Regions from separate parts of the Homo sapiens genome. Here region 1 is linked to region 2. Evidence: fine-mapped expression QTL. A gene starts in region 2. The other region holds a variant in brackets. All regions are shown on one strand. Distances are between the middles of the regions.

Region 1 (2,500 bases), 25 kb before region 2:
AATACAAAAATTAGCCTGGCATGGTGGTGCGGGCCTGTAATACTAGCTACTCAGGAGGCTGAGGCAGAAGAATTGCTTGAACCTGGGAGGCAGAAGAGGGGAATGGGGACTTATATGGGTATGGAGTTTTAGCTCTGGAAGATGAAAGTAAGTTCTAGAGATAGATGGTGGTGATGGCTCCACAACAAGGTGATTGTACTTAATGCCAGTGACCTGTACACACTGAATGGTGAATTTTATTTTATTTATTTATTTGTTTATTTTTGAGACAGAGTCTCGCTCTGTCGCCCAGACTGGAGTGCAGTGGCGCGATCTCAGCTCACTGCAAGCTCCACCTCCCAGGTTCAAGCCATTCTCCTGCCTCAGCCTCCCGAGTAGCTGGGACTACAGGCGCCCGCCACCATGCCCGGCTAATTTTTCTTGTATTTTTAGTAGAGATGGGGTTTCACCGTGTCAGCCAGGATGGTCTTGATCTCCTGACCTCGTGATCTGCCCGCCTCGGCCTCCCAAAGTGCTGGGATTACAGACGTGAGCCACTGCGCCTGGCCAAAATGGTGAATTTTATATCTCTAGTCTGCTACAATTAAAATATAGTAATGCAAAAATTATGGTCTAGAAAAGCTGTATTCCAAATGTGTGAGTGTTGGGGGAGGTGGACAATGGAACTGGGGAGAAAGAAAAGGGGGCTCAAATATATATATATACTTTTTTTTGAGACGGAGTTTTGCTCTTGTTGCCCAGGCTGTAGTGCAATGGCACGATCTCGGCTCACTGCAAGCTCCGCCTGCCGGGTTCTCGCCATTCTCCTGCCTCAGCCTCCCGAGTAGCTGGGACTACAGGCACCTGCCACCATGCCCAGCTAATTTTTTTGTGTATTTTTAGTAGAGACAGGGTTTCACTGTTAGCCAGGATGGTCTCGATCTCCTGACCTCGTGATCCGCCCTCCTCGGCCTTCCAAAGTGCTGGGATTATGGCACTGGGTGGTGTGAGTCACCGGGCCGGCCAAATATTCTCTTTTATATGTAAAAACCCAAAGCAAAAATGACACATTGCTAGCATTTGTAAATTCTGTCACATGATTCTTTGAAGGCCTCTTACTGTTAAAGAAACTTTTCAAAGTAAAAGTAAAAAAACAATTAATGAACATTTTTGTAGGAAAAAAGAGGTCTCTGAAGTAGAACTGCCCTGAAGTGCAGGATTTCTCACCCCACACCTCACCCCAAAGCCACCTGCGTGCTGGGCACTGAGCGTGGGAGACCTGAGAGCTGGTGTTCTGGAGGCTGTACCTGCGCCAGGCAGAGCCTGGCGGGCTAGTGGGGATGGAGATGGTGGGATGCTGTTTCCTCTGACCCAGGGCAGATGAGGCAAAGGCTGGCAGGAAAAGGTGTCTCCGAGAGCCAGTCTCCTTCTCAGGCACCCACTGCACAAGATC[T/C]GGAGGGCAGATGAAACATAGGAACCATCGAAACACAGAAATGTGTATTATTAGCAGTGAGAGCAGGCAGTAGAGTTTTTTGAATCTGCTGATGACAAAATATATTGCCTAATCTTTCTGATTATTTTTTTTTTCTTTGACCTCCCTGCATATCTCTGGAGCTCCCACAGCTACGGGCTGTCTGCCTTGCAAAATACATATTTACAGGCCCTCTAAGCCCAGCTAAATATAGGCTTTCTTTTAAAGCAACTGATGATTTGGAGAAATCTTTCCTCTGTCCAACCCCTTCCCCCGCCCCCCAACACACACACACACCCTGACTCCTCCTACCAAGTCTCCCTCCCTAGTCTCCAAGATGTATCTGAACTTTCCAAGAGCCACTGGAGCAAGTGTGGAGAGTGATAGAAAGAAACTGGGTACAGCAGAGGGAACCAGCAGCAAGGCAGTCTCCTAGCTGTGAGAGGACCCTAAGGGACCCCTCTCCCTGCAGGGACAATGAGGGGCTTGAGGCACCCACAGGCAGGAGTGAAAAACCCTTTGGGAAGTAGAGAAGAGAGGTCATCCCAAGAATGACCCCCAAAGATTTGGAGAAGCTGTAAGCAAGGGGTGTTTATATTTCAGAATTTCACATATTGAACCTTAAAGAAAATGAGAGCCCCAAAGTCCTGTGAAGACACACAGAGAGATGCAAACACCGAGTTTCATTCTCAGCCACACCTGCCCACATGTGCATGCAGGCACACACCCCCACATGTGCTTGGATACCCTGCAATCAGTAACAGCCAACACTCTGAGCCCCCTTTTAGTGCCTTATGCATTGAGGACCCATTTATTCCTCACAAAAACTCTATGAAGTTGGTATATTATCTTCATCTTATAGATGAAGGAATTTGTTGAAGCCCCTTAGCTGGGGAGTGGGAGGTTGGAGATTCTAACAGAGATGGCCTGGCTTCAAGGCCTGTGCTGCATGCACAAAAGTGAGGGACACCTAGGGTTATCTATGCTCAGGAAACACTCAGACACTCAAGCTAAGCTTTTTGAGGAAACAGGCTTTGGGAGGGGACACGA
Region 2 (2,500 bases):
ATCAGGGAACTCTGTCCTATAGACTCCACACCTCTCCTCTGACTCTAGACCCCTGATCCAGCTTCACCACTTGCCTTTTTTTTTTTTTTTTTTTTTTTTTTTTTTTTTTTTTTTTGAGATTTGAGTTTCACTCTGTTGGCCAGGCTGAAAGGCAGTGGCACAATCTCAGCTCACTCCAACCTCCACCTCCCAGGTTCAAGCAATTCTCATGCCTCAGCCTCCAGAGTAGCGCCACCATGCCTGACTAATTTTTGTATTTTTAGTAGAGACAAGGGTTTCACCATGTTGGCCAGGCTGGTCTCGAACTCCTGACCTCATGTAATCCACCCACCTTGGCCTCCCAAAGTGCTGGGATTACAGTCGTGAGCCACTGCGCCTGGCCTTTCACCACTTGCTCTTGAGCAAAGCACTTTCCTTCTTCTAAGTCTCTGTTTTCTCTGAGGCAGTGGGTAATGGAAACACCCACCTTGTGGGTTTATTGTGAGGGTGACAATAGATGATCTGAGAGCGCCTGGCACCTGCCAAGCTGTGACGTGCGGTAGCTGGTTGTGGATCCCTACATTGCCTCCCTGGCTGGCCTGCCACTACCATCAGCGCACTGGGTCCAAGTCTGATCTCATCCGTCCCCACCCCCACCTGCTCCAGGGCTTCCTGCCTCAAGCCAAGGTCCACAGCCATCCTAGACCCCTCCTCCCTCACCTCCTAGTCCAGCAGGTCCCCAAATCCTGTCAGCTTCTTCGGTGTCAGCTTCTTCAGGCCTGCATCCTGAAGGGCTCTCAGCTTAATCTGTAATCTTTATGCCCACTGCCACCGGCCCTCAATAGCCTCCAGCGGGTCTCCCTGCCTTCAGAGTGCCCTCTGTAACCCTGTCTCCAGGGGAGCCAAGGGTGCTTCCTAAATGCACACCTGAGCCCCTCCCTCCTCTTAATTTTGTGTGTGTGCGCGCGCGCGCGTGTGTGTGTGTGTGTGTGTGTGTGTGTGGGCGGCGGGGTGGGCGGCTGGTAGAATAAAGTGCAAGCCCCCTGCACCTCCCCAGCTTCAATTTATCTTCCCCTCTTGCCCTCCCACCCCCAACACCCCCTGGCACTTCCCTACCCTGGCCCGCAGTTGTAGCCAACACATCACATCCTCTGGGAATCCCCCAGCCCAGCTCCCGCCGCGGCCGCCTGGACCCAGGCCGGGCCAGGGGTGCGCTCTCCCTTCCGGCAAGAAGTGCCCTCTGTTAGCTGGGCCCATGGCGCCCAGGCTCGTGAGGGCCTCCCCACTCGTCTGAGCCCCCGACTGGCCCACTGGCCTTGAGCGCAGTTAGGGGGCGGGGGTTCTGTTCACCGCTGTCCCCTCCAGCCTCGGCGCCCCGGCTGCTCGGCGGACGTTTGTTGAATGAATGAACTAATCGGGAGCCCTGATGGACCCGGCAGAGGAGGCGGAAGCCCCGTGGGTCCCGTGGCGGGACCGCCCCGGAGCCGCTCCCACCCGCGCAGACTCCGGTGCGCCGCGTCTCCCGCGGGCAGAGAAGTAGCTGCAACTCCGCTCCCCGGCCCCAGCCGCCTCCTCCCCGCCGCCCTCCCCCGCCCCCGCCCCCTCGCTCCCTCCCGCTCTTTGTCTCCTGGGCGCCCGGCTTCTCCGCCACGCGCCCCCCACCCCGACGCCCCTTCCCCGGAGACCCCCGCGGACCCCTGCCGACGCGACGCCGCGCGAATCGGCCCTGCCAGGCGGGGGCCCCGCGTCCGGCCAGGCCTGGCGGGCGGCAGGGGCGGGGAGGGAGGTGGCGCTCGCTCTTCGCTCTTCTCTCTCTCTCTCTCTCTGTCACACACACACACACGCACACGCACACGCACACACACACGGAGCATCCTCCCGTCAGGTCTCCTGGTCCAGCCCCGCCCGCGCCTCCTGCTTCCAGCGAACCTGTTCCCTCTCCCCACATCCCCCGCCCTCCATCTCCCCCGGCTCTGGGACCCTTCCCGCCGACCTCACCCCCACCCCCGGGATGGAGCGGCTCGAGCCCGCCCGGAGCCCCCCGCGGCCGGGGTGACGGTCCCCCCACCCCTCTCCTGCCCGGCCCCCGCCTCGAGCACCATGGGCCTGAGGGGTTCCCGGGGCGCCAGACGCTGAAGATGACCGATGCCGGAGGTGAGGGGCCGGGCGCCCTGGGGTGGACCGGGAACTGGGGCTAGGGCCACTCGGGCCCGCGGTGGGACCCTGAGTGGGGTTGGGCAGGGCTAAGCGACAAGGGCCTTTCTTCCCCTATCCCTAGGGGGACCGCACGGGGCTGGGGTGCCGGGCTGTCAGGGGAGGGGGCGGAGATAGGATTTATGGCCCTAATCCCCTCCCTCCCGCCCGACGCCCGGAGAAATTAATAAAAAGCTGGTGTGGGGGGAGGGGGAGAGGGCTTAACTCTTTCTTGCCCGGCGGGGAGTTGTGCTGATGGTTTGGAGAGAAACTAGCCACCGGGCTCTGACTGGGGAGAAGGGCTCTGAGAGTGGAGTAGGTGCCCTGT

The links. PIP is the estimated chance that this variant, and not a neighbour inherited with it, causes the effect. A credible set is the group of variants that fine-mapping cannot tell apart.
Region 1: its variant is the best candidate, but not a certain one, in a credible set for the expression of SAMD14 in whole blood (INTERVAL, PIP 0.85).

Annotation. Positions count from the first base shown.
Region 1 is chr17:50,154,479-50,156,978 of GRCh38, reverse strand. The region is part of intron 1 of LOC124904025 (a long non-coding RNA gene); the gene reads right to left. Among named protein-coding and RNA genes, the nearest start is that of PPP1R9B, 5.1 kb to the right of the region's middle. RefSeq lists a cis regulatory region at 2,383-2,500. The variant T/C (reference allele first, on the strand shown) is at 1,433.
Region 2 is chr17:50,129,150-50,131,649 of GRCh38, reverse strand. It overlaps SAMD14 (sterile alpha motif domain containing 14), which reads left to right and starts at 1,490. Exons shown (of 10, transcript NM_001257359.2): 1 at 1,490-2,133. RefSeq lists silencers at 1,395-1,474, 1,715-1,774.